Linked DNA regions of Homo sapiens. The protein of the gene in region 1 purifies or fractionates together with the protein of each later gene. This does not show direct contact. Each region holds a gene or a part of one and is shown in the gene's direction. Other genes may lie near its edges. The genes, in order: ITM2B, DCBLD2, BTN2A2 and SEMA4F.

Region 1 (6,920 bases):
TTGTTATATTGCCCAGGCTGGAGTGCAGTGACTATTCATAGGTACGATCATAACGCACTGCAACCTTGAACTCCTGGACTCAAGCAATCCTCTGGCCTCAGCTTCCTGAGTAGCTGGGACTATAGGCTTGTGACACTGCACTTAGCTTGGTGGCCTATTTTTTAATGAGGTGGTTTGTTTTGTTATTGTTGAGTTTAAAGAGTTATTTGTGTATTTTGGATTCAAGTCTTTCATCAGATACATGTTTTGCAAATATTTTCTCCTAGTCTGTGGCTTGTCTTCCCATCTTTTGATTTCACTCTTTCTATGGTTTGTGTTTCTCATCTTTTCCATCTTTTTCCTCCCTTTCTCTCTCTCTCTCTCTCTTTTTTTTTTTTTTTTTTTTTTTTTTTTTTTTTTTTTGAGACAGAGTTTCGCTCTTGTTGTCCAGGCTGGAGTGCAATGGCGCAATCTCGGCTCACCGAAACCTCTGCCCCCTGGATTCAAGCAATTCTCCTACCTCAGCCTTCCGAGTAGCTGGAATTACAGGCATGTGCCACCATGCCCGGCTAATTTTTTGTATTTTTGTATTTTTTTTTTCTTTTTTTTGAGACGAATTCTGGCTCTGTTGCCCAGACTGGAATGCAGTGGCGTGATCTCGGCTCACTGCAAGCTCCGCCTCCCGGGTTCACGCCATTCTCCTGCCTCAGCCTCACGAGTGGCTGGGACTACAGGCGCCCGCCACCACACCCGGCTGATTTTTTGTATTTTTTTTTTTTTTTTAGTAGAGACGGGGTTTCACCGTGTTAGCCAGGATGGTCTCGATCTCCTGACCTCGTCATCCGCCCGCCTCGGCCTCCTAAAGTGCTGGGATTGCAGGCGTGAGCCACCGCGCCCGGTCAATTTTTTGCATTTTTAGTAGAGTCGGGGTTTCTCCATTTTGGTCAGGCTGGTCTGGAACACCCGACCTCAGGTGATCTCCCTGCCTCGGCCTCCCAAAGTGCTGGGATTACAGGCATGAGCCACCTCACCCAGCTTCTCCCTCTCTTTCATCAGTGCAGAGCATATCCAGTCTTTTCACAAAGCAAAACAAAAATCCCAAGTGCCACAGCCAGTCAAATCAAAAGAGATCTGCATTTGTTATTAGGATAATTCCTAAAGGGTCTCGGGATATTATAGAGCCCAAGATTTGAAAAAGAAAAAAAAATGCATCTGCTAGTTCAAGGAAAATAATGATAAATTATTTTAAAATTACATGAAAATAATTTATATAAAATAAATTAAAATAATTGAAAAGCATATATAATATTGAAATAGGAAGTCGGTAAGAAAAATAAACAGTGCTTAAGTCTCTGAAGAGGTCAGTCAAAGCCTTCAAAGCTCTCACCTAGAAGAAACACTTCTTTTATGAAAGTTCAGACAAAGCCACAAGATGACCAGCTAAACTCACACATTGGGTTAAGAGAAGAGGCAACAGGAGCACATTTCAAAGGGCTTATTCAGTGACGTTGTTTCACCAAGGACCCTATACTTGTGAAAAATAAAATAAAATAAAGTTTTCCAATCATTCTGTAAAACCACAAGAAATTTCTCTGAATAAGGAATTGTTTCCTTGAGAAAGAACAGACAGAATAGAGATGTAAAGAACCTAAAAAGAAAAAAAAAATCCCTGTTGAAGCACATAATGCAAATCTATTAAAATATTTTAGAATTCAGTTCCCCACTTCCATTTTTTCCTCCCTCCTTTGGTAAGCATAAAAACAAACATGGTTGCTGGTGATATGCAGAGCTGGAATCAGATTCATCTTGCTCTCTCAAACTCAACGTCAAAAAGGAAAACAAAGGTCCTCTAAGACTCCCTTTACATTTGGTAGTTAATAGTAACTTATAACTATGTTTTTAACTTTCTTTTGTTGAGTCATGGACTCTCCTCCTCCCTGGCTCCTAAGTTTTCAGGGTCAACGGGCAACCTTTTCTAAATCACAAGACTGGATTTGCTATGTTTGGTCTTGCTCCAGCGTCTTTATTATCCCTGCTGTTGTGCACTACACAGTTCTGTAGACACATGAGATAAAATGGAGAAAAAAAACCAGGAGATTATTCCCAGACCGGTTGCCAACTGATTTTAAACTGTTGCTCACTGCAAGTACACAAAATAATGAATGGTCTTTTATTCATGAGTCTTTCAAAATAGAAATCCTGGGGCGGGGAGGATTTCTAGTTTTGTCAACCTCATTTGTTCATCCTTTGCCTCAGCTTCCTAGTCTGTTCAGTAGTGTTGTTCACGAAGAATTTTGTTTTATTTTCTTCTGTAATTCCTTTTTTCCCCCCGGAGTATAATGACAGCCAGATTCTTCTCTATCATCTACTGCAAAATGCCTTGAGTATTTTTCTACCATCTTATTTTAACACAGAACGAAGTAGGAAGGATGTACATATAATTATTTATAATCCTCCAGATCTTGCTTCCAGAAATACTTAGTCTTCAACTGTAATGTCTCAGGGAACCTATTAAACTAGGGAGCTGGAAGCAGTCGTTGACTTTGAGGAATTAGATAACATTAGATACTATGAAAGTCCAGTCCATAGAGTCAACCTCACAGAGCCGATGCCTGCACAAGGGCGACCCAGGAGTTTAAATAAGTTGCTGCAAGTATGGTTAGCTACTGTTAAAACTCACCAGAACTGGAACCTAACTCATCCTCCTCTTGGTTGAGCAGATTTCATTTTGACAGGAATTTCTGAATACCCAAAGCAAACTCAAAGTCTGGCCTGGGTTTCTATCTCAGCCCAGGATGCTTCTGAAATACATGAACAGAAGGATTTGGAGATCTTGGGCTGTTTCCCTGGGACTTATGATCTGACATTCTATGGAAATACCCAACTCCCTCCTTGAGCAGGGCCAAATCCCCAAAGATCTCAGACTGAACCCACTTTTTTCAGGGTTGGCCCAAGGCAGAGCTGACACAGCTGTAACATTCTAGAGCACACCCACAACTCTGGATGAACCAGGACAGAATGGGGTGGAAGGATACAAGATAACACATTTGTCCAAGGGGGCCGTCTGTTGACACAGTAATGAACGCAGTAACGACGGGAGCCAGTATTCTACCTCGCATTAGTTGTAAATGAAACGTCTTCAAAACATGAGAATTTTGCGTTATCCTTAATTATTTTTTCATTTTGCAGAAAAATAAAGGGACTCGTCATCGAGTACTTTGAGTCACAAATCAGCCAAGTGTGCATGTGGTTTTTTTCCAAGTACGCACAAGAGTGGAACATTTCGTTTTACGAGTGTGAGATGTTTGAAATACAAATCTGCCAAGAGCTTCCTCCACATTGGTCTGGGACTAGGCAGAACAGGCCCTGACCTCCTGAGAGAGGGAAGGAAGACCAGGCAGGTCTGAGCCAGGTAAACGCCCTTGGGTGAGGTCCGTGAAAGATAAAGTCAGATCTCAAGGACAGAGAGCTTTAAACATGTTTGTGCTCCACTGAGTCGGTTACCTAATAAGTGAGAAAATGAAGATGTGGATGCACAAAAATTCCATGGCCTTTAGGCTCGCGGTGGGGACAGGGTACAGGGAAGCGGCGGTCTGGTGCTGCCAAAGGTTAGTCCCTTGTACCCGGCGAACTCAGGAAAGTTCACTCGATTTCGCTACAAACCTGCAGCACTCGGCCTGGAGGTAACCTGGTTGGGAGCGAATTCAGAACTGGAAATTCCAGGCGGCCCAGAGGGACACCCATCCCTCTCCGAGGCGCGCCGGGATCCGGCGCCCAGCTGCGGGGCGAGGGCAGGGTCCCGCGCAGCACCCCACCCCCGGCCGCTGGCCCCGCCCCCGCCCCCGCCCCGCCTCCCAGGGGATGTGCGAGCAGTCTCCGCCCTCGCGCGGGAGCTGGGAGGCTGCGAGATCCCTACCGCAGTAGCCGCCTCTGCCGCCGCGGAGCTTCCCGAACCTCTTCAGCCGCCCGGAGCCGCTCCCGGAGCCCGGCCGTAGAGGCTGCAATCGCAGCCGGGAGCCCGCAGCCCGCGCCCCGAGCCCGCCGCCGCCCTTCGAGGGCGCCCCAGGCCGCGCCATGGTGAAGGTGACGTTCAACTCCGCTCTGGCCCAGAAGGAGGCCAAGAAGGACGAGCCCAAGAGCGGCGAGGAGGCGCTCATCATCCCCCCCGACGCCGTCGCGGTGGACTGCAAGGTCCGAGCCCGGGGAGGTCGAGGAAGCGGGTGCTGGGCCCGGCCGGGGAGGGCTGCGCGGACTGCAGCGGCAGTGCGCCCCGAGGTGGCGGGCGCGGGGCTCGCGCCGCGGGGACAAGTCCCCGAGAGAGCCCGGCGCTCCCGTTTCCTGTGGGTCCGCAGCTCCTTTGTAAGGAAGTGCGTGTGCTGGAAGCGGTGCCTGACGCGGGGTCGGGGGCTTGGGAGGCCTGGAGAGGGAACGATTGGCTAATTGTGCCGAATTCCCGGTCGTTTGTGCAGTCCGGGGAGCGTGCGTGCAGCCAGGACTTGGCTTGTTCGATCTGGGGACCGGCAGCGACAGGCACAACAACAACAACCGAGTTTGGCACTTCCTTCCCAGTATAAATAATGTACCTAAAATGGCTGACATCATTACAAGCCTAAACCTCTGTTGTTTCCCACTTTCGTTTCTAGGCTTGAACAGCACTTGGACTAAGTCCAGCAACTGTAAGCGTCTTAATTTTAAAAGCGTTTCTTTACCTCCTTTTTCCACGGCCCTTCGGTAGTGGCAGGTGAACTTCACCTGGAGAGGGGACGAAGGGACAGTCCGCCCGAAGTAGGTTTGGGCTGTCTCTTACCATTACTAGTAAAGGCCAGTAATGACTATGTGGATGTTAGTGAAAAACCAATTGTTGGCATTTAAATTGTATCAGCGTCTTTGTGAGGACTCCTGCTGCGTGAAACTAAACATGAGAAATTTGCCCCCGGGTCCCTAATAAAATTCTCCTTTATTTTACAAAATCTCCCTTTAATCCTAGGAAAATTCATGAAGTGGGGCTGTTACTGTGTTGACTTTTAGTAGGTTACGATCATATTTACTTAAATATGAGTGTAATTGTCTCATAAGTTAAAAAAGCCCACAGCCTCTTACCCAGACCCTTTTTAGGCTGCAAAAATTAGAAATTAACTGTAAAGTTATGTTGCTTATCTTATTTTTTGTTGTTGTTAGCATTTTTCAAGACCTATTATCAGTAGGGTAAATTTAGTTTTAACTTAAAAAAATTGGTGTGCCACGTATGAATAATGGGAGTTTTTATATGGACGAATGAAAATTATTGCTGAAAAACAGGCCACTAATATACTGTAAAAAATTCACAATATAATGGTAATCTAGACATCATATTATAATTTATTATATTCTGAATATAATCTATCTTCAGAATATAATGGTAATCTTACTTTCTGGAAATGTTCTGATAAAAACAGACACGTCAGAGGTTGATTTCTAAATGACTTGCCTTGCCTTGAAATAGGAACAGTGAACTGATTCCCTAAAAGGATTAAAGGTTTTGGTTTTCGTATTGGTATTGTTTTCCTGAAGCCATTGCAAACAATCTTGGTCTTTAAAGAAAATGTTTGGAATGCACAGATGAAAATTGCAGTAGCAAATTATTATGTTAGCTCTTTGTTTATCTAACATTCGTTGTACCTAAAATAGATTGAGAGTCAAGTATCCAGTCACAACAGTCTCAAATATATGTAGTCTTAATGCTATCACATATATATATATACACACATACATTTAAAAATCCTATTAACAAATATAACTGCTCCCATTTAGAAAGGAGAGAGTGAGCGAGCATTGGATGATGTCACTTCAGACAGCTTTTCTCTGTTCCGCTGTAGTGGAGATTTGAAACTCTGGACAAACATCAGAATTACATTTGCTGAGCACCATTAAATCTGACTTCTGACAATTTTTGTCATTTCTGAAATAGTGACTCTGCCAGATTCTCAAAATTGCTCACGAGTTCACCATATTTAAATTTTGTGGTCATTGCAGCTATAAGTAATCATTGGTAGCTCCGTGCTTTGTTTTCCATTTTTTATTTTCTCAGATCCTCCATATCCAAAGAAAAATACTACTGGGACTAAAGAGTGAGGGCCAGAGTCGTCTTTGTAAACCACCCAGCAGTCACGGATGAGTTGGTAGATAAAAAATGACTAATTCTTTTTCCAGCTATAAGCTGAAAGACTTCTTTAGGGGATGACAAAATATTTCTCTACATTAAAAGTAGAATCCTTATAATCAGTCAGTCGCTTAACGGGAAAAGGAAAACCTTAATGACAGACTTTTGTGAAAGAAGTTCTGATCTCTTCATTTCAGAGCTTGGGCAGTGATTACATAATGTTCTCTGGCTCCTTGCGGGTGGCTCTGTGGCAGCCACCTTGTCTGACTGCCTGGACTGGGAACAGAATCAGCCTTAATGTGTTTTGCCGAGGGCATTTCCTTTGCCTGGTTGGTTGAAAGAATCAAACCAAGCTAGTTAATGGCCTAGAACTCCTGAACAAGAATTTTTCTTATCTTTAACCCTCCCAGATCACAATATCCCGCAGACCATTGTTTTCCAAAATGTGCTCTTAGGGACCACCTGCTCTGGTTTTAAAATGCAGATTCTGTTACCTTATGCCACAAGAATTCTGATCACTCTAATCAGCTGGCTTATATAACATGCATTCCAGTACTTTTACATTGCTCCTGTCTTTCTATTTTTTTCTTCTGCAGGGTGAGAACTCTCCAGAAACAGTTCTATTACCCCATTTTTCAGTCTTATCTTTTCAGCAGCTATTAATCCTAACAGCCATTTCTATTGATAGTTTTATCTCAACTAGCTTGCTGTTTATTCTTTTCCTGCATTTTCCCCTTAATTGTTTTCACCTTCCTCCTCTCCTAGTAGGCATAAAGCTCTTAGAGCTATAGAGACAGCAAAG
Region 2 (7,583 bases), on another chromosome or scaffold:
AGATGTTTCTGCACAGACAGAAACAAAGGCACCAGCCCCCAGGTTCTTTTCCTACATTCTAATTTCCTTAGCAGTTGGCTGAGCTTGGATTCATTTGAAAGTAGGAATAGTAAAATGTAACTATTCTTTTTATATTTCCCCTTTTCCCTATAGATTAATTTGATTTTCTTCATTCTTCCATTTTTTTTTTTTTTTAATGAGACGGAGTTTCACTCTGTCACCCAGGCTGGAGTGCAGTGGTGCATCTCGGCTCACTGCAAGCTCCACCTCCTGGGTTCATGCCATTCTCCTGCCTCGGCCTCCCGAGTAGCTGGGACTACAGGCACCCGCCACCACCACACCCGGCTAATTTTTTGTATTTTAAGTAGAGACGGGGTTTCACGGTGTTAGCCAGGATAGTCTCGATCTCCTGACCTCGTGATCTGCCCGCCTCAGCCTCCCAAAGTGCTGGGATTACAGGCATGAGCCACTGCACCCGGTCTTTTTTTTTTTTTTTTTTTTTGAGAGGGAGTCTTGCTCTGTCACCCAGGCTGGAGTGCAGTGGAGCAATCTCGGCTCACTGCAAGCTCCGCCTCACGAGTTCACGCCATTCTCCTGCCTCAGCCTCCCGAGTAGCTGGGACTACAGGCGCCCGCCACCATGCCCGGCTAATTTTTTGTATTTTTAGTAGAGACAGGGTTTCACTGTGTTAGCCAGGATGGTCTCGATCTCCTGACCTCGTGATCCGCCCGCTTCGGCCTCCCAAAGTGCTGGGATTACAGGTGTAAGCTACCGCGCCCGGCCTATTCTTCCATTCTTTACTGATTAAGAAACATGAAATAAAGAATGAGAAAAAGAGGAAGAGAGATAAAAAATTAAAATTTAGGTTGAGAATCTATTTTTATTTTTAAATATCTTAATGTAGAGTAAACAACCAGAAATACAATAAAATAATACACACTTTTGAAACCCTGTAAAAAGAAGCCAGAACCTGGGCTTGCCTTGTGGAGGAACTGTAGCTTCTTGGAGCCTCTATGTGCTACAATGATGGCCCTCTCCAAACCTATCCACTTTGAGACTTGATTAGAATCCCCAGTTCTGCCCCTGGGTTATGCATCTGGGTTGCATGGGTAAAATGGTCCTGGACAAGTATTGCTCCCACTGCCTCATAAGATGTCATTCCCCAAACAAACCAAGTCCCCAGAAGCAAGGATCATGACAAAGTTGTCTAGAGCAGCATGCAGAGAATAAGAAAGGTAATATAAACTAGAATTCCACTTTACCCGCATTGTCTTAGAAATGAATGCCTATTATATTCCTTTGGTGTGAGGTCCCAGGAGAAAATTTTGATCATTTCAGAGCAGCCTTCTGTCATTGTTTGGCAACTAAGTAGAGAGACAATAATCAGAAGAGAGAATATGGGTGCAACAGCATCAATCCTCTCCCACATCTGTGCTATATTTGTAATTTTCTATATACATAAAGCAATAGGGGGCACCACAAATGTTCTCTAGCCAGACTTCCAGACCCTGTCTTCCAAAGCGAAACTCCGGAAGCTGAGGCATAAAATAACACAGAAATAGTCAAATGGCATCAGTCACTAAGACCTTCTGATTTTGCTGCTTTAAATATAACTCCAACTTGCTCCCACCTCCCTCTCTTTTTCCCTGCCAGTGACCTAATTCAGAACCTCTTCACCTCTCTAGTCTCTACTTTTAACAACTTTAAAACACTAGACAGTAAGTAAAACAGTGATGAGAAATGTAAGTGCTCCTTCCTCTTGCTTTACACGTATGTAGTCGGGATCTTTTCCTGCTATATTAAAGGGGTAGGGGTTGCTAGAGACCAAATTTTGCCTCTTCCAGAAATGCTCCATAACTGTGCTAGTTCTTAGGTGAATTCTCTGCCTCTGCCACAGTTCTATGTAGTCAATAGAATGCCAGGCTAAGATTCACACTACCTTGCTCTGCCACCACATCTGTGACCTCAAGCTTCTCTTTCAATGGTCCTATGAAAGGAGTGATTCCACATGAAATAGGTTGTCTCAGGCACTACTACTAGAAATCTTATTTCATGACTGACTGCTTGCCACATTAGCACATCATGTCTGATAGGTTCAATTCTGAATTTATGATTTTTAACTTCTACTTCTTTATCCAACCAAACCAATTCTCCTTCTTGTACTCCTTACTGTGGGAAAGACATCACCTTCTACCAGAAACCTGGAGACTTCCTCAACTCCTTACACTCCACATAATCAGTCACCAAGTTTAAAAATATTCCCCTAGTTGGTCCCGCCTTCCCAAGCCCACTTTTAATGCACTAAAAACTCACCATCACTCCCTTTAACTGCAGACTGGCTCTCCCTGGCTTCCAGTCTTGCTCTTACACCAATGTATTCCTCACCCTACTGGCTGATTGGGGTTTTTACAATAAAAACCTGATAATGACCGGGCGCGATGGCTCACGCCGTTATCCCAGCACTTTGGGAGGCTGAGGCGGGTGGATCACCTGAGGTCGGGAGTTCGAGACCAGCCTGACCAACAATGGAGAAACCCCGGCTCTACTAAAAATACAAAATTAGCCGGGTGCGGTGGCACATGCCTGTAATCCCAGCTACTAGGGAGACTGAGGCAGGAGAATCGCTTGAACCCGGGAGGCAGAGGTTGCAGTGAGCCGAGATCATGCCATTGCACTCCAGCCTGGGCAACAAGAGCAAAACTCCATCTCAAAAAAAACAAAAACAAAAACAAAAACAAAAAAAAAACTGACAATGTCATTCTTTCTTAGAACCCTTTAGTTATTTTCCAGTGATACAAAATAAAATCTTGACTCTTAGCTTGCCTTACATCTTGCCCCTCCTAACTTTTCCAGACTAGTCTCCAGTTCCTCCCATTACGTCAGCAGTAGTCAATCCAGCTCCATCAACACCATTCCCTATTGAGCCTGTGACCCAGCCTATTTTGCCTCTGGCCTGAGATCACCTTTTTCACTTTAGTTTCTTATTCAAGACACTGGCATTTCAAACTGACGGGTTTTTTTGAACTCCGTTCACTGTGGTATTGTGGCACCAGTCCACACCTCTAACAGGGCACTAATAACAATAGGTTTGTTTACATGTCACCTCCTCCTCCAGAATGTAAGTTCTTCTCAGTAAACTTTTTATGCCCAATGCCCACAATGGCTTAGAGCATAATAGGGTTTCTTAGGCATTTAATAAATGTTAATTGAATAAATTTGGTTAAAGAGATTATTGTATAAGAAATATGCAGGGGAGTTGAAACATACGACCTCCAAAGTCCTTTCCAACTTAGACTTTCATTGAAGGATATCAGTCCCTTCCATGTTTTTGAATATCACATCTATGTATGACTATGTATACATATGTATATGTATACATGTATGGCTATGTATGACTCCCAGAGCCATAATTTCAAAGCTCTCAATCTGAGCTTTCGACTAAAATATCCATCTGCCTGTTACATAGCTTCACTTATTATCTAAGTTGGCATCTCAAATTCAATACGTCCAAAATTAACTTACTTTCCCACACAACTTGTTCCACCTTAGCAGTTTTTTGTATTTGCTAATGACACCATTGTCCTTTCAGGGACTGCTGTTAAAAACATCCTACATGGCCACTCTCTTCTAAAATAAATCACTGCGTAGACCTCTGCATTCCTCTTTCCTAAAATTCTTTTTGTCGTTCCATAGGCTTACAGTCTCCATCAAACTGCTTGTGACTCTAATTAGCACTTACTTCATTCTGACTTGCATGCTATATTTCCATCTCTGTTCCACATTTCAAGATTTCTGTAGATAGACAGCAGGTGCTCAACAACTCCTTGTAGAATGGCTGCATGAAGGTTGGGATGTTAGGTTTAAATTGCCTTTGCGGCACGGATCTTGTTTTACACTTTTTTGTCCCCCACCCCCCGCCATAAAAAGAGCAGAGAAAACAGGGAACACATATATTAAAAACTGAACACTGCATCTATTATTCTAACTCGGAGCTGTTGCAACAACTGGCGGCAGTTTTAACAAAACAAGCCACGCTCTGCCATTAAAAAAAAAAAAAAAGTCCCTTAGACTCAGCTCCCAGCTAAAACAACCCAGGATCCAGGTTTCCCACCCCCTTCCAGTGGTCTGATGTGCGTCGGAGGAGCGAGGAGAAAGGAGCAAGGAGCAAGCTGGGCCTGAGGAGCAGGGAGCGCGGGATGGGGGACGTCCCGGAAGTCACTGACGAGCTGGCTGCCGCCTCTGCGGGATCAGTTTGGGCTGAGGGCCCAACAATAACAGGCGCCCGGGCCGGGCGGGGGCCGCGGGGATCCGAAGCTGGAGGGCGGGACCTGGATTGGAGGAGGCGGGTGGGACGCCTCCAAAGGCCGAAGGGGATTGGAAGAGGGAGGTAAGGGGCGGTGGAGCTCGAGGAATGGGCCGGAGAACTAGCGGGTCGAGCGAGGAGCGAGCATGCTGATTGGGTTTCGCGGAAGGAGACGGACCAGAGCTGGCCGAGGATTGGCCGCGGTGCCTAGGGGGCGTGGCCGGCGCGCGCGAGAGGGAGCGCGAGGGAGCTGGCTGCGGGCCTGCCTGCCAGCTAGCCGGAGCCGCGGGTGAGCGCGGCGAGCGGCGACCCTGGTGAGGAGCGCGGCGCGGGAGGCACGTTCCTTAGCTCCGCCGCGGCCGTCCTCCGCGGCTCGAGGACTCCGCTTCCTTCCCTCCCCTCCCCTGCGCTCCGGCCTGGGGTCTCGGCGCGGGGAGCGGAGGGAAGGGACGAAGGAGGAGTAGGTGAAAGCGGGGTGAGGGGCGGAAGGGTCCCGGCGCGGGGTGAGGCGAGGGCTGCCTCTTGTTCTCCCGCCGCTGCCGCCGTCTCCTGGTCGGGTGCCGCGGCCAGAGGCGCGCGGGGCTGCCGAGGCACCCGCACTATGCAGGCAGACTGCCGGCCGCCGCGATGGCGAGCCGGGCGGTGGTGAGAGCCAGGCGCTGCCCGCAGTGTCCCCAAGTCCGGGCCGCGGCCGCCGCCCCCGCCTGGGCCGCGCTCCCCCTCTCCCGCTCCCTCCCTCCCTGCTCCAACTCCTCCTCCTTCTCCATGCCTCTGTTCCTCCTGCTCTTACTTGTCCTGCTCCTGCTGCTCGAGGACGCTGGAGCCCAGCAAGGTGAGTGGTCCCAGGGGAGTGAGCGGCGGGGGAACCTCCGTCGGGGCTGCGGGTCTCTTGGCCCCTGAACAAATCTGCAGACGCTGCAGGGAGGCGCGGTGCGCTTTCGTGCGTGGCCGGACCTGGCTGGGTACTCACGGGGTTGAGTTGCAAAGGCAAGGTCTTGCCCGTCTGTCCCCCAAGTTGGCGCGGCTTTACTTTTTGGCAAGGCCATTTATTTTTCTGAAAGGGGGACGTGAGACCCTGCTATGAAAGCCTCGTTGATATTAGGTCCTTCTGGGGAAAATTTTGGGGAGGAAAAAGAACCTTTGGAGGTAATGACCCCTAAAGTTAAGCTGCACGGATGGATGGACACTGTAGGAAGGCAGGTTAATTAAATAGCATCTTAAGCCTATTAAAGGTAAGTGGTGGTAATTATGATCCTTTGTGAAAGAGCCCGGGTTCTGAAGCGAATGGAATAGTTTCTGCTTATCTCTGAGTCTTGGATTCAGAACATGTTCTTTACAATCCATCATTGAGGCTGGTGGTCTAGACTGCCTTGGTCAAACACTGGGTCTGACCCAACGCTATGCTAATTTGCCCAAGTGAAGCTCTCCACATTAAAAAGGTAAGCCTTTCCAGAAAGTGACAAAACTTTTTTTTTTTTCCACCTACAATCCTTGAAAAACCTGTTCCAGAAACAGGCAAAACTGTTTATTAAATACTTATCATAATGGAAGGAGAATGCAGGGTGATTTCTTTTCCCCTTTAGTACTGTTTTCCCGTAGTGTACCACACTTTTTGAATCAGTTTGGCATCAGTTTTTGAAAAGATATTTCCATTGCATTTTCCATTTTATTGCAGTGGGAAGGATAAGGATTGGATTGTTACTTATTGCTAGGAAGAGAGTTTTTTAAAAAGAAAATTGTTCTCTGCCTTTAAGCCCAGCTTTATGTTGCTCTCATGGTTTTCAGTGAAGTATGGAATCATGGCCTGTCATTAAGAAGATGCCGAACCTTGACAGGCATGTGGAAATATAATCTCTGTAACTATAAGGAAAAAATGTATTTGGCAAACTGACCCCTTACATCTAGACACGTTTCTATATAGAGTAACTCAAAATTTAGATGCTTAGCATTTAGGTTTTAGTTAGATCGTCTTCTAAAATTACTGAACATCATCATCATTTAATATATTAAAGTGTGAAATCCTTCTTTCCACTGTAGAGATGTATTTCCCTCCTGGTAGGGGGGAAAACAGGCTTATATATGGCTAACACTTAGGGCTTACTTTGTGGCTGGAACAACTGGACTAAGTGGTTTGGGTTTATTAACTCCTTGAATCTTCACTACAATCAGCTGAGATAGTTATTGTTATCCCAGTTCAAACGTAAGGACATTGAGACACAAAGAATATAAGGTACCTTGATGCAGGAGGGCATATTACTCCATAGGCAGAGTACTCTGCTTTGCTTGTTTCTGGATCTGATAGTGTTTGTATCATGTTATTAAAAAAAATCTTGGAACAGTATAGAATCAGTTACATGTCTACCTTCCAAATGAGGGATTGCCTTGTTTTTAGAAAAGGCCAGTCTACCGGGCGCGGTGGCTCACACCTGTAATCCGAGCACTTTGGGAGGCTGAGGCGGGCAGATCACGAGGTCAGGAGATCGAGACCATCCTGACCAACATGGTGAAACCCCGTCTCTCCTAAAATACAAAAAATTAGCCGGGCATGGTGGCACATGCCTGTAGTCCCAGGTACTCAGGAGGCTGAGGCAGGGGAATCGCTTGAACCCGGGAGGCGGAGGTTGCAGCGATCGCGCCACTGCACTCCAGCCTGGCGACAGAGCGAGACTGTCTCAAAAAAAAAAAAAAAAAAAGAAAAAGAAATAGCCAGTCTAATCAGACAAGCAACATTACTTCATTTTTTAAGGTTTAATATAATTTTTTTTTACCAGAACATTTTAACAAATACATTTCTCTTTAACAGTGTCATCTTATGTAAACATCAACATAAATAGAAATGATTCTGATAATTAAAAGACTTTTTTTTTTTTTAGTTCTTCTAAATTGCTTGGGTAAATTTTGCTAAATCATTTAATATTTAATCTCTTTGTACCTCAGTTTTCTACATCATTAAGGTGAGCATGCATACCTATCTCATAGCTTAATATAAATGAAATGATAGTATGCAGGAATTTTGCAAAGGGAAAAGCTTAAAATAGCTATAAATGATTATTACTAATCTCGATCTTACTAAGTTGATAAATTAAGAGCTAATTAGGTATACATCATCTGAAAACTCACAATTATTTGAGATTTGAATTTTCTCATTTTTAAAAATTAAATTTTTTACTCAAAGGACCCTAAAGCAGCCCGTGGTGGAATTCCTTTTAAGCCAGTCTTCCCAGTCTAACAGATGTTCTTTAGGGTCTACTGATATTCCCTCACATAACCTGAAAAGAAG
Region 3 (7,022 bases), on another chromosome or scaffold:
CAGAGAGAGTGACTTTTATATAAATAGATGATTTTTATTAAAGCACAACTAAATACAGAAACAAAGTTATCTATAATTCCTGCTAACTCCACAGAGAAAGACTAAGAATTTAGCTGGGAAGAAATTGGCAAGGCTTCAGCATAGAAATGCACTTAAACTGGGATTTCTAATAGTTTGTTAAAAGTGACACTAAGTGATTACCTCAGTGTTGCAGTTAGTGTATTTTGCTTTAAAAGGTATATTTCAGGACTGAAAAAAGCCTTTAAGTTGCAGAATAATTCGTGGTGACATTTCAGTCCATCAGACCAGTGGAGGCAAGGACTAGGAAATTGGGTTCTTCCCAGGGGGCCCCAAATCATAACAGGTAGGAGACCCTATCTTTGCTACTCACAAAGGCAACCTTACATCTGATTAAAACAGAATATCGTGGATGGAGGGCTTCTTGACCCATTGTCATGACTGTGTTCACAGCAGCACTGCAATGTTGCCCAGTAATGAATGGTTGTATGTGGCAGGGACCCACTACTCTTTCTCTGTAAAACCAACCCTGTCCTGGCCTTCCCTAGTCTGAATTGGGTTGCTGTAGGACTTTTTGTTTGCTTGCTTATTGTACTCTGTTTGTTGGATTGGTTGGTGGCTGATTTTTCCCTTAAATCTATTGTGTCATGCTTACCCGTATTGAACCCATGGAATGTTTTGTAGGACTTTGTTTTCCAATTTGCTGAGGTATTTTAATTTCTTTTCTAATTCAGGATTTCTGTGTGAGCCTTCAAATGCACAACTAGCTTTTTTCTCCTGACAAAAATTAAACAGAGCAGAAAGCACTAGGCTTAAGTGATTGCTTTAATTTTCTTTCTTTAACATAATTTGTTGGGAGACTTTACAAAGGAATTATTCAGGAGAAGTTTGGATGATCACGCATGGCTGAAGGGTCTCCCAGGACCATGCTTTTGCAGCTCTCTCACTCTGGGTATTCTCTTTCATTGAAGGTTCTAGTAAAGATAGAATATATTTAGGATGAGCCTGAATTATTAGGATTTTTGGTGATGATCTCTGACATTGAGGAGGCAATATGGTTATCTTAAGGATCCCAGGGGCATCCAGATATTTCTAATACATTGATGTTCTTAAAGGACTGTAAGAAAATTCTCTATTGGATGGAACCTCTGGGAGGTAAACAACTGTGAATTAGAATAAGAATTGGCTTTGCCAGCTAGTTCTGTCTATTCTCCTAAAAACCATCACCTCCTATGGAGGTAGATAGCCATGGTGATGTGAGGCCCTGAACTAGACAGAAGTGTCAGTGACTTTGGTTCAAAAAGTTTCTTAAGATTTAGCCAAGGCTGAGCATAGTGGCCCATGCCTGTAATCCCAGCACTTTGGGAGGTCAAGACAGGTGAATTGCCTTAGCTCAGGAGTTTGAGACCAGCCTGGGCAACATGGCAAAACCCCATCTCTACAAAAAAAAAAAAAAAAGAAAGAAAGGAAAAAAAGCTTCTGCCAACCTGATAGGTTTCTGTCATTAGTGTATTATTTTAGAGCTTCAGGAAATTGAGGTCTGCAGAGAAGTCATCCCAGGAGCAGAAAGTGAAATTCTCAACCTGCCTGTTGAGAATTTGGACACACCCTCCTGGAAGTGAGAAAATTAGTCTTTGCCAGAATAAATTGCACAGCAAGCATTTATAGCAGACAGATAGATGCTTGGTGCTGTGATGGGGCCTTCAGGTGGAGCATAAAGAAAAGTGTGCAATGTGATCCTTTCTCTTTGAGATCTCACAATTTATTTTGCATATTGGTTTCCTGATGTTCTCCAAAACCAAGGGTCTTTCTAGCAACCATCCATCAAGGTGCAGTAGGGGCTAAGATACCACTGCCTTTTGGCTGAGCCCTGGTCTCCCTTTCCAGGCCTTGGGTCTAAGCCCCTCATTGAAATCAAGGCCCAAGAGGATGGGAGCATCTGGCTGGAGTGCATATCTGGAGGGTGGTACCCAGAGCCCCTCACAGTGTGGAGGGACCCCTACGGTGAGGTTGTGCCCGCCCTGAAGGAGGTTTCCATCGCTGATGCTGACGGCCTCTTCATGGTCACCACAGCTGTGATCATCAGAGACAAGTATGTGAGGAATGTGTCCTGCTCTGTCAACAACACCCTGCTCGGCCAGGAGAAGGAAACTGTCATTTTTATTCCAGGTTAGTTCTCTGCCCTCTGAGACCTATCAAGTGTATGCAGGATCCTCAGCACCCAGATGGAGCCCAGAGCGGGAATGGGGGCAGCAGTGTGGGTGGAATGGTCCTGGGCCCTGAGGAGCTGGAGGCTGCAGCTGAGTTGAGACGTCTCCCCTCCTCACAAAGGGAGATTCAAAGAGTCCCAAAACACAAGAGTAGGAGCCTCTTCTCTGAGGGTAAACCTGGTCTTTTTTTTCTTGATTAGGTCTTTATGCTGCAACAGTTGTAAAATATTAAGGACAACCATCAAACCTGGAGAGTAGTGTGGGTGGGTGACTGTCTATGCTTGGCATTCCTGTATGTTGCAGCCATCCCTTCCTGTCTATGGGACTTCCCAAAGGACAGAGCTGGGGAAATTCCCTATCAAGAGACATTCATAAATGTATTCAACAAATGTTCAACAAGCATTTCTTATGTTTAAGACTGTACAGGAAACCAAGGGTCAATAATTGAACAAAATATATCAAAATTTCTCTCCTCAAGGAGTTCATATTCTAGAGAGAGACAGCGGCCGGGCACGGTGGCTCACACCTGCAATCCCAGCACTTTGGGAGGCCAAGGTGGTTGGATCATGAGTTCGGGAGTTCAGGACCAGCCTGGCCAAGATGGTGAAACACCATCTCTACCAAAACTACAAAAATTAGCCGAGTGCGGTAGCAGGCGCCTGTAATCCCCGCTGCTTGGGAGGCTGAGGCAGGAGAATTGCTTGAACCCAGGCGGCAGAGCTTGCGTCAAGATCGTGCCACTGCACTCCAGCCTGGGCAACAGAGTGAGACTCTGTCTTAAAAAAGAAAAAGAAAAAAAGGGAGCGCGAGAGAGAGACAGCAATATATGAAATAATTGAAACAAGTGATTAAATAAATAATAATCTATATATTCTATCACATGGTGACGAGCATGTAGGAAAAATTAAGCAAAGAGAAAATAGAGAGTTCCAGGGGTGTGAGGCATCAGAATTATTAACAAGGTGGTCAGGGAAGACTTCACTGTAAAGATGGAAATTGAGCAATCAAGACAAGGAACCATCAGATGCTTAAGGACTGAGCAGCCAAGGTACAGGAAGAGCATATGCAAAAGGCCTGAGGAAGGAGCTTGTCTGGCAGTTTCCAGGACTCCCAGGAGGTGATGCTGGTGTGGCTGAAATGGAGTGAGTTCAGGAAGTAGGGGGAGATGAATTCACAGAGTGATGCAACTACGTTATATATGGCAGCACAGGCCACAAACAGGCTTTGGCTTTTAGAGTGAGTGAGTGGGAAGCATTGGAAGGTTTTGAGCAAATAATTAACATGATCTCACTTGGGCTGCTCTGCTGAGAGTAGATTACAGAATAGAGCAGAACAAGAAGGAGGGCACTCTAGTATTCCAGGCGTGAGTGATGGTGGTTTGAGGCAGGGTGATGGCTGTGCTGACTCAGCATGGCTGGTTAGTTTTATGCACTCTGGTCCTTTCCATGGTGACTCCAGATGTTTCTGCTTTGCCCCCTTCTGGGCCCGGCCCTGGCAGTCACTGAGGTGTCAGCCAGTGTTGAGCCAGCATCGCTTTCTCCATCTAAGGTTTCTGAGGGAGAAGCCAACAGAACAGGTGGCTGAGGAGCTCTTCAGATGTGCTCTTAGGGGCACTCTCATCCAGATGTTCTATTTCAAACTAAATGGACTTTTCTGGCTGCCTTTTCAGAATCCTTTATGCCCAGCGCATCTCCCTGGATGGTGGCCCTAGCTGTCATCCTGACCGCATCTCCCTGGATGGTGTCCATGACTGTCATCCTGGCTGTTTTCATCATCTTCATGGCTGTCAGCATCTGTTGCATCAAGAAACTTCAAAGGGAAAAAAAGATTCTGTCAGGGGAAAAGAAAGTTGAACAAGAGGAAAAAGAAATTGCACGTAAGGAATTTGTAAAGAAAGTGTGGAAAAATAGAAAGAAATTCAAAAAGAAAAGTTAAATGAGTAGGAGGACAATTGACTGTCATAGAAAGGCCACAGCTCTCACAGGTACCGGCTTAGGGAAGAGAGAGAGGAAATGCACAGCAGCAGCCACAAGGGCTTGGAACTCTCATGTCATAAGAAGTAATCATTCAGAGCTTTCTTTCTTCCATGCTGCACACATTACATTCATTCACCTGGCTATATGCAGCACTACATGGCTGAACGAAAGTTCAGACAAAAGTCTAACAATGTACTGATACTACCCAGCCATCTGATCATACATCATTGCTGGTTTCTGACTGTTCCTTAGGCATAAACGAAGGGTGATGTTGGTGTTCATAGAAAGGATGGTTCCTACGTTGTTTAATACAAGCTCAATTTCTCTTAGTTCTTCTGTTGAAGACATGATTTTGTTTCTGTATTTTGTTTTCAGAGCAACTTCAAGAAGAATTGCGTAAGTTTAGCCTTTCCTGAACTACTCCGTGTACAATTTGTGTTCTGCTTACTTAGCAGTGTCTCGTGACATTCACCTCTGTCTGTCCCTTGCAGGATGGAGAAGAACATTCTTACATGCTGGTGAGTGCCTCTGATGTTCTCTCAGATCTCAGCTTTCTCCCCACTAGCCAGCTAACAGGACTCCTTAGAGGAGATGAGCAAGGGGCCCAGGGCTACACAGGGACCATAGGGAACTGGGGTCAGTTCATCAACGGTGTCCCAGCAATGATGCATCATGGCTCTTCTGTCAGGGAACCCCAGCAGCTCTTAATGAACCCTGCAGTTTACATCCCCAGGACCCTTTCTCTTTTGGAATAATTTAATGCATGATTATCAAAGGTTTCCCATGCATAGTAGCCTCCTAAGAGTTACATTTCAGAAGTCATTGCTCTTTGATTCTGGATCAATTTGAAATAAGATAATGCTGTCTTAGCAATTCATATCCTGGGAATGGTATAGACTGTGCACAGTTGAAGACCTATGTGAGGAAAAGGCCATAAGGGTCCCCAGTAAGCCTGATGCAATGGTGTACAAATAGGTGGCCAGAAATACCTTTCTGCCTCTAAGAGAGCACTGATATTCTGCATGTAGTCTGCCAGGGGAAGGGGTTTGGGTGAGTGGGAGGGTGAGTGGGAGAGCACAGAGAAACCAATCGCCCACTTCCAGTGAGTTCTCATCTTGTGATTCGGCACCTCTGCCTGTCAGCACCAAAGAATCCAAACTTTACCAGATACCAGGGCCCATGGACCTTTCCTCTTTGGCGAGTTTCAAAATTGCCACTGTCATTTTGGGACACAATCACAACTTGTCACAATCAGACATATCAACTTGTGGAAAAGAGAAAATCATTTTAATGCAATAGAAAGGTAGACTGAATAAGTAAGAATACATGCAGAAGGTAGAGGTTTGCAGAATGCTCAGCTCCTGGGGCTTTTCCTGTATGGGAGAAGTAATCCTGGTAGATGTCAGACTCATATTGTTAAAGCAAAACTGGATTGAAGTATTTCTTCCCTAACTTTGCCCACACATCCCTCAGGCACCAGGTTTTCTTTTGCACACATTTATTCTCCTTCTTTATCCTTTGAAGTGTGCCCTTGTCAGCCACTTAAATCAGTTGTCACCTATTAAAACAACCTATAGGACCAACGAAGAGGTCCTTCACCACCTAGGACAGTGTGTAATGATAGACTCACTTAATTGATCCATTGAGAGGTATGTGGGGGAACAATAGGAGATAAAGCTTCTGTGATGGTTTAAGCCAAGTTGGAAAGTTTCTAACTAAAGAAAGTCCCAGAGATCATATATCTTGAATAGAAAAGGGATCAGATCTTAGAATGCTGAGAAAAACTGGGAACCATTAATTTTGGCTCATTTCCTAAACTCTCTGGATTTCATAGAGCCACAATTCTTCTCAACCTGGGGGCACTGCTTCTGTCTCTGGAGAGATAGAAGTGCAGCTTCCGTAATTCTCAGGGTATGAGCTGCCTGGGATCAGGGGACCTTCATGGAAACGGCCACTACATGGGGAACCCCCTTCAGCTTTCTGAGACTTCTCTGGGGACCAGGAACCACACAATCCCCAGGGTTCCTGAGACCCCAGGCATAAACCTGAGACTTCCTCTGCAGCTGATGTGGTCCTGGATCCAGACACCGCTCATCCCGAGCTCTTCCTGTCAGAGGACCGGAGAAGTGTGAGGCGGGGCCCCTACAGGCAGAGAGTGCCTGACAACCCAGAGAGATTCGACAGTCAGCCTTGTGTCCTGGGATGGGAGAGCTTCGCCTCAGGGAAACATTACTGGGAGGTGGAGGTGGAAAACGTGATGGTGTGGACTGTGGGGGTCTGCAGACACAGTGTTGAGAGGAAAGGGGAGGTCCTGCTGATTCCTCAGAATGGCTTCTGGACCCTGGAGATGTTTGGAAACCAATACCGGGCCCTGTCCTCCCCTGAGAGGATTCTCCCTTTGAAGGAGTCCCTTTGCCGGGTGGGCGTCTTCCTGGACTATGAAGCTGGAGATGTCTCCTTCTACAACATGAGGGACAGATCGCACATCTACACATGTCCCCGTTCAGCCTTTACTGTGCCTGTGAGGCCCTTCTTCAGGTTAGGGTCTGATGACAGCCCCATCTTCATCTGCCCTGCACTCACAGGAGCCAGTGGGGTCATGGTGCCTGAAGAGGGCCTGAAACTTCACAGAGTGGGGACCCACCAGAGCCTATAGAATCAATTCCTTGGACTCACAGCCATGCAGATAAGCCCTGGCCATCTCAGCAGCCACCGCACAACCCCCCTAATGAAAGACACGCCCTCCTCCCCTCTGGTCACGTAAGAGAACATCTTCCAGCTGCCTTTTTCACACCCACTCCAGCCCTCTGCCCCAGTT
Region 4 (7,753 bases), on another chromosome or scaffold:
CTTTGTGTTGCTATACCAGAATACCACAGAACAACTAACTTGTAAATAAAGGAAATGTATTCTTAAATTCTGGAGGGTAGGAATTCCAAGGTTGAGAATCCCACATCTAGTGAGGGCATTTTTTCTGTGTCATCCCATGGCAGAAGGCAGAAGGGCAAGGGGTACAAAAGAGCAAGACAGCAATAGGGAGCTGAACTCACTTTTACAACAAACCCACTCTCTCAATAACTAACTCATTTCCAAGATAATGACATTAATTCATTTATGGGGGCAGAGCCCTTATGGCCTAATCACCTCTTGTTAGGCCCCACCTCTGAACACTATTCCATTGGGTACTAAGTTTCCAGCAAATGAACTTTGGGGGACGCATTCAAACTTGAGCACTAGCCTCACTCCAAACCATACCACCCATTGCTCCTACCTACTATTAATTTCTTTCCGTACCCTCTATAGCATTTATTAAAAATATGCAAAGAACTGTACCAGAAATGGGGACTATGACATAAGAATTGTTTTCTGAGGGTGATAAACTATAATGGTCATGAGAAAGCACCTTGCAGACTTTAAACTACAAGGAGTGTAACTGACCAAGGGCATCAGCTGCTGCCTTAGAAATCTACTGCCACGACTGGGCTCCGTGGTTCACGCCTGTAATCCCAGCACTTTGGGAGGCCGAGGCGGGTGGATCACCTGAGGTCAGGAGTTCGAGACCAGCCTGACCAACATGGAGAAACCCCATCTCTACTAAAAATCCAAAATTAGCCGGGCATGGTGGTGCATGCCTGTAATCCCAGCTACTCGGAAGGCTGAGGCAGGAGAAACACTTGAACCCGGGAGGCAGAGGTTGCGGTGAGCCAAGATTGCACCACTGCATTCCAGCCTGGGCAACAAGAGCAAAAACTCTGTCTCAAAAAAAAAAAAAGAAAGAAAAAAGAAATCTGCCACATTTGCATGGAGGCCATCTTCCCAGCCACTGACTGAATGTGGTGGAGATACTAAGGCAGACCCATTCCTGGGAAACACTGCACTTCTCACACAGCACTCCTCACACAGCACTCCTCTAATGGGCAACATTGGCTTGATGATTCCCCAACAGTCTTGCTGAACTATACTCCAGTATGGAGTATAGTATGTGGAAGAGGAGTGTCAAAGATGAAGCAGGAGAGATAGGCAAAGGGCCAGAACATATACGATCTGTGGACTATATTAAAGATTTCGGATCTTATCTCATAGCAAAGGCGGGGTGGGCTGGAATGGGGAGATAAACTGAAGTGTTTAAGCAGAAGAGTGACATGATCTGATTTGTGTACTGGAGAGAACATTCTCCCTGCCTCCCTGCCTTAAAAGGAATGGATTGGGGGCTGAAATTGGGGTGGTGGCAGCAGGGCATAGGGACAAGACAAGAGTAGGAAGGAGCCCAGGCAAGAGAAGATAGTTGTTTGAATTAGGGTATTGGCAGAGGGGATGCGGAGATGTGGGAGGAAGTATTTAGGAGTTAAAATTAACAGGCCTTTATGATTGATTTGATTAAGAGGAATCCAAAATGACAGGGCCTAGAACATAGTAGGCATTCAATGAATACTTATTGAATAAACAAATGCAAAGTCTCTGGCTTAGACAGCTGGAAAGACAGTAGTGCTATGGGGAACATTGGTTTTAGCATCCACACAATTACCAGGATGCTATGAGGGTGGGGACGATAGTTCAGTTTTGGACATATTGAAATCAAGGTGCCTGTGGTTACACTGTGTGGAAATGTCCACTAGGCACTTGGATGTGTGTGTCAGAAGCTGAAGAGAAAGATATGGCCTAGAAATGTAGATTTAGAAAATCATTATTAACTAAATTAGTATGAATGAGACTACATAGAACAGTGATTTTTTTTTTCAAAGTGGGGATCTCAACTCATTAATGAATAGTAAAATCAATTTAGTGGGCTGCAACCAGCATTTAAAAAAATGGAATAGAATAAAATGCAACATGATAGGGAAAAAAATGAGAATTTAGCTCCTGAAGTAAAGATAAATATAATGTAAGTATGACTTTGTTAAAAATTTAACTCACTAATATGTACATTGGGTACATGAATGCATGTACTTAAGTGCAATTAGGTTGCACAATAAGAACCTCTTATTGTATGTTTTGTGAAAAAAATTGAAAAAATATTAAAAAAATCAAAAGACAACCAATAAGTCATGTTCAGAGAAGGGACTAAGGCCTAGACTAGACTGCTGAGAAGCAGCTTAGGAAAGGCATATAGTGGGCTAGAGGAAGAAACTCAGACGGGGGGCAGGGGTTCCATTGTGTTGAGGTTGGTTTTAGAAAGAAGATTTCAGAGAGAAGATTAGAAGTACTGATCCCAAATGCCTGATTTTCCCTCTAGGCTAAGCAATTTGAATTCAAGGACAATGGCTTTTTTTTTTTGGCAGGCTAGAGTGCAATGGTGTGATCGTAGCTCCCTGCAGCCTTGAACTCCTGGGCTCAAGTGATCCTCCTGCTTCAGTCTCCCAAGTAGCTGAGACTACAGGTGTGTGCCACCAGGCCTTGCTATTATTATTATTTTGCAGAGACAGGGTCTTGCTATGTTGACGTGGCTGGTCTCGAACTCGTCTTCAAGTGATCCTCCTGCCTCAGCCTCCCAAAGTGCTAGGATTACAGGCATGAGCCACCATGCCCAGCCAACGGACCATGTCTTAATCTTATCTCTAGTACTTAGTAAAATGCCTGGCACATATTAGGCCCTTAATAACTGTTGAAAGAACAAACTAGAACTAGTACTTGCACTTTAGAAAGATTATCCTGATGGCAGTCTGGAAGGGGAGGGACTGGAGGCTAGGTTTTTGTTTTTTAAATGAAATTATCACACAGTCCAGGTGAATGATGATGATGTCCTGAACTATGATGATAATGGAAAGAAAAGGATGGATTTAAGTTACTTTTTAGTCAGATTTATAAGGACATAGTGATTTCTTACATATGGGCATGGTAGCTAGTCTCCAAGAAAGGAGGCTGAAATCCTTGTATTCCCAGTGAAATCCCTGTACCACCTGGTGAAGTCCCCTTCCACAGTGCATCAGGGCTGCCCTGTGTGACAAGTAGAATATGGCCGAGAGATTGTGTGTTACTTCTGAGGCTAGGTCACAAATATATCATTTGCTCTTTTGCCTTGTTCTTTTGGATCACTTGCTCTGAGGAAGTCACCCCATTTTGTGAAGACATTCAAGCAGCCCCATGGAGAAATTCATGTGGAGAACAACCTTCACTTACTGCCAACAGCCACTACCAATTTGGCAGGCATGGAAGTCCGCCATCTTGGAAGTGGATCCTCCAGCCCCAGGCAAGCCTTCAGTGGACTGCTGCCCCGTTTGATATCTGGACTGTAATCTTGTGAGAGACTGGAAGCCAGACCACCTAGCTAAACTACTCCTAAATTTCTGACGCAGAGAGATTGTGAGAGATAATAAAAGTTTATTCCAAATGTCTGATTTTCCCTCCAGGCTAAGCAATTCGAATTCAGGGACCATGTCTTTTGTTTGTTTGTTTTAAGCCACCAAATTCTGAGGTTAATTTGTTACATTTGTTTTGCAGCCTAAATAACTAATACAATGGGGGTGAAAGAGGAGAAAGCAAAGACTACCTACTAAGTGCAGACTAAGTGCTTGAAGAAGGAGCTAGGGGCCGGGCGCGGTGGCTCACGCCTGTAATCCCAGCACTTTGGGAGGCCGAGACGGGCGGATCACGAGGTCAGGAGATCGAGACCATCCTGGCTGACACGGTGAAACCCCGTCTCTACTAAAAATACAAAAATTAGCCGGGCATGGTGGCGCGCGCCTGTAGTCCCAGCTACTTGGGAGGCTGAGGCAGGAGAATGGCGTGAACCCGGGAGGCGGAGCTTGCAGTGAGTCGAGATCGCGCCACTGCGCTCCAGCCTGGGCGACAGAGCGAAACTCCGTCTCAAAAAAAAAAAAAAAAAAAAAAAAAGAAGGAGCTAGGGTTGGGATGGAGGAGATAGTGAGTTATCCTCAGGACCTATGCTTGCCTTGTTTATAGGATATCCAAGTGGATATGCCCATAGGCAGTCTTTGTTCCTCGCCCTCAAAGGCCTACCAACCCTAGAAGAATCAGTTCAAATGTCACCTCTTCTGTGAGGCCTTCCTGATTTCCTCTGGCAAAACCTGGCCCTTCTGCACACTTATTGCACGTTATTATAGCAAACGTGCATTGCTTCGTATTGCAATTATCTATTTGCAGTTATTTGCTTACATTTGGAAGCCCCATTACAGTGTGAACTCCCTAGGGCAAGGGCCGTGATTTTTAGTATTTTCTGTATAATCGTGTGTGTGTGTGTGTGTGTGTGTGTGCGTGTGTGTGTGCGCGCGCGCGTTACACTGTGCCTGCCCAGCACATAGGCAGCCGTCCTTAAATGCTTGCAAAGTATTAATTTTGAGAAACTTGGTGCGTGTATCCACGTCCTCTTATTAGTAAGTTTTCCTTATTAGTACAGCTATGGGCGTTTGAGTTTTTGGAGTGGCCGGAGCAAACTCGCCACTCGAGGTCCCTGAGTGGCAGCCCCAGCGCACTTCCGAGGCAGAACTCCCACCTTCACCTGGGTCTAGCTCCGCCTCTGCCTGGGTTAGGCCTCTCCTCCCCTCAGCCCCGCCTTCACTCAATCCCGATTGGCTGGAGGAAGAAGGAGGCCCGACCATTGGCCCCTTTCTGAGGGGGCGGAGCCGGGCGGTGTTTCATCCCTCAGCCTCAGGCTGAGCCGGACCGAGCCGAGAGGACCCGAGTGGGGCCGAGGCCAGTAGCCCCGGGGCCCTGAGCAGAGGCCGTAGCTTGCGCCGCACCCGCGGCCAGGCGGAGCCAAAGATGCCGGCCTCTGCTGCGCGGCCCCGCCCGGGTCCCGGGCAGCCTACAGCCTCGCCCTTCCCGCTACTGCTGCTGGCGGTGCTGAGCGGCCCGGTATCCGGCCGCGTCCCCCGCTCGGTGCCCAGAACCTCGCTTCCAATCTCTGGTAAGGCGCGGACGCCCACGCCCTCAGCCCTTCGCGCCCACACCCACACCCACACCCACCTGCTCCTCAGACCGCTCGGCCGGACCCGGGCCTCTCAGCCTGGTGTATGGCGTTTCACGCCGCCCACGCCCCGCCGGGACCGGGGCGAGATCTTCGCACTTCACCGCATCCTCTCTGCATCCCTCCCGCGCCCCTCAGCCCCTCATCCCCAGCCCGGGCCTCGCGCCTCGGCTCCCACGACACGCCCAGGCTGCACCAGCGGGCCCTATTCCCGGAGCCGCAGGAGCGTCCAGTCCTCACCGTGCAGACTCGGACACTGAGGCCCAGAGCTCGGGTGGGGGCTGCCCGAGGTCGTTCATTTCGAAGTTCCGTCTCCCTTAGTCCCCTGTTTCCCCGCACATACACCTGGGTCCATCATTCCAGCTTGACGCCCACTCTGCTTTCAGACCCATCAGTCTTTCATTCTACTCCAGCTTTCCATTCCGATCTCCAGGTCAGCATTTCCATCTTCTCCAATTCATTTCCCTATCAGTTCTATACATCATCCGAGCCTCTTGGCCCTTCTGACAGCCCTTCCCGCTCCCCTGACATCTCTGACAGCAGCTCCCATTCTCCCATTATTGGATCCACGTTAACTCTCTTAACTTCCTCAGTGTTCCTCGCTGCCTCTGCCCATTCCCTACATTGAATATTGGTAAACCATTCAATGTGTTGATGTAAAGTTCTGCTTAAATGATTTTTCAAGTCTTCAGAAGGAAAAATAGAGGAGGGGGATATGATCCTTTGAAAAGATGTGGAAGAAGCTAGGAGACGTCACAAGGTTAAAAGTGATCATTGGGGCGATTCACATTTTAGACTCTGCTGAGGTGGGTATGAGCATGGCCGTGGACCTTGTTGTCTTCTCAGTGGGCATTGAGTGTTATTAGCACCTTGGGCAGACAGAACCAGTGAAGCCAAGAGTACAACCTGTTGGCAACAACTCTGGACTGGTTAATAGTAGTTTAGAGTTTAAATTCAGACTAGTGCCATATAGGGATGCTGTGATTCCAGAAGGCGAAGTTGTGGCCAGAGCCTGGGGTTTCAGTTTGCACCCAAGCAATAGCCACAAAGTAAGTTGAGATTGCCAGGCTGGGTTGATGTCCAGGCATCCAGAGATGTCTAGATGGCAAGCAAGGTGAAGCAGAGTTGAGGATGTGAGGGGAAGTTAGGTGATCCAGGGCTTATACTAAGCATGAGAGAGTGGGCACAGAGGTAAGTATGGGTGTGGGAGGAAGGAGTGGGCGGGACTCATCAGTACATCTAGGAATGAATGGGTTGGTGTCCAGTCTGCAGTCTTGAGGGTACTGAGCAGAGGAAGCAGGTAGAGCAGAGCTGTATTGGTGCAAGGGTAGGGTCCCCAGAACCAGAGGTTGAGCTAGGAAGGTAAATTCATGCCAACTTATTCCAGTCTTTAAATAGATACGAATTTTGAATGCTAATATGAGGTTTAGATTTTTTTTTTTTTTGAAGCGGAGTCTTGCTCTGTCACCCAGGCTGGTGTGCAGTGGTGTGATCTTGGCTCACTGCAACCTCTGCCTCCCAGGTTCAAGCAATTCTCCTGCCTCAGCCTCCCAAATAGCTGGGATTACAGGTGCGCGCCACCTTGCCTGGCTAATTTTTTGTATTTTTAGTAGAGACGGGATTTCACCATGTTGGCCAGGCTGGTCTCAAACTCCTGACCTCAAGTGATCCACCCACCTCAGCCTCCCAAAGTGCTGGGATTACAGGCGTGAGCAACCGTGTCCAGCTAGTGCTCTATTTTTATAGAAAAAGCATACTTACCCACTGGATTGTGTGCTAAATATTCTGGCCTCATCTATCTCTGGTTCACTTGTCAAGGCTGTGTTTCTCCCCCATGGCTGCTTAATAAATGGTACTTGGAAGAAAACAAAAATTGGCCCCTTTGGTTTTGCTCTTGTGGACTTGACCCTTAGGAAGCGATGGCTAACATCACTCTCCTCTCTTCCTGCCAGAGGCTGACTCCTGTCTCACCCGGTTCGCAGTCCCTCACACATACAATTACTCTGTTCTCCTTGTGGATCCTGCCTCCCACACACTTTATGTTGGCGCCCGGGACACCATCTTCGCTTTATCCCTGCCCTTCTCAGGGGAGAGACCCCGCAGGGTGAGAGACAAGAGAGGGAAGGACCCCTGACCCTGTAGCATGTGATTAAATCTATGATTTTATGAGTGTGTGTGGGGGATTTCATAATAACTAAAGATGTAACAGCAGGGGTAGTAGGAGGGGGTGAGTTGGGAGACATGGGGGGAGATCATCCACTTTGTTTTCTTAGCTAAGAGTATGGCGGGTCAGGGTGACTGGGGAGGATATGAAGGAGGTTCATGATGATGGGGAGGAGACCACAGTGACCAGGTTTCAGGTGACAATGGGCAGAGGGATCATTAAAATTACAATACTCTAGGGAAACAGCTTTCAAACTTTTTTTTGACCATTATTAGAACTATACAGTTTGAGCATCCCTAATCTAAAAATCCAAAATTCAAAATACTCCAAAATCTGAAGCTTTTTGTGTGCCAACATGGCACTCAAAGGAAATGCTCATTGGAGCATTTTGGATTTTGGATTTTCAAATTAGGGATGCTCAACCAGTATGTATTCTGCGAATATCCCCAAACCTGAAAAAATCTGAAATGTAAAACACTTTTGATCACAAGCATTTCAGATAAGGGATGCTCAGT

Evidence for each region.
Region 2: the proteins of ITM2B (region 1) and DCBLD2 purify together in Homo sapiens (affinity purification with mass spectrometry; 3 studies listed by BioGRID and IntAct, with this or other methods). This does not show direct contact.
Region 3: the proteins of ITM2B (region 1) and BTN2A2 purify together in Homo sapiens (affinity purification with mass spectrometry; 3 studies listed by BioGRID and IntAct, with this or other methods). This does not show direct contact.
Region 4: the proteins of ITM2B (region 1) and SEMA4F purify together in Homo sapiens (affinity purification with mass spectrometry; 3 studies listed by BioGRID and IntAct, with this or other methods). This does not show direct contact.

What each region holds. Positions count from the first base shown.
Region 1 is NC_000013.11:48,229,308-48,236,227, forward strand, and holds the start of ITM2B (integral membrane protein 2B), read left to right. Parts: upstream 1-3,898; 5' UTR 3,899-4,053; coding exon 4,054-4,170; intron 4,171-6,920. UniProt on the Homo sapiens protein: Plays a regulatory role in the processing of the amyloid-beta A4 precursor protein (APP) and acts as an inhibitor of the amyloid-beta peptide aggregation and fibrils deposition. Plays a role in the induction of neurite outgrowth.
Region 2 is NC_000003.12:98,898,674-98,906,256, reverse strand, and holds the start of DCBLD2 (discoidin, CUB and LCCL domain-containing protein 2 precursor), read left to right. Parts: upstream 1-4,561; 5' UTR 4,562-4,930; coding exon 4,931-5,135; exon of another isoform or gene 5,136-7,583.
Region 3 is NC_000006.12:26,386,108-26,393,129, forward strand, and holds part of BTN2A2 (butyrophilin subfamily 2 member A2 isoform a precursor), read left to right. Parts: intron 1-1,905; coding exon 1,906-2,187; intron 2,188-3,897; coding exon 3,898-4,104; coding exon of another isoform or gene 4,105-4,163; exon of another isoform or gene 4,164-4,579; coding exon 4,580-4,600; exon of another isoform or gene 4,601-4,695; coding exon 4,696-4,722; exon of another isoform or gene 4,723-6,038; coding exon of another isoform or gene 6,039-6,188; exon of another isoform or gene 6,189-6,267; coding exon 6,268-6,860; 3' UTR 6,861-7,022. UniProt on the Homo sapiens protein: Inhibits the proliferation of CD4 and CD8 T-cells activated by anti-CD3 antibodies, T-cell metabolism and IL2 and IFNG secretion.
Region 4 is NC_000002.12:74,649,508-74,657,260, forward strand, and holds the start of SEMA4F (semaphorin-4F isoform 1 precursor), read left to right. Parts: upstream 1-4,739; 5' UTR 4,740-4,869; coding exon 4,870-5,014; intron 5,015-7,026; coding exon 7,027-7,178; intron 7,179-7,753. UniProt on the Homo sapiens protein: Probable cell surface receptor that regulates oligodendroglial precursor cell migration. Might also regulate differentiation of oligodendroglial precursor cells. Has growth cone collapse activity against retinal ganglion-cell axons.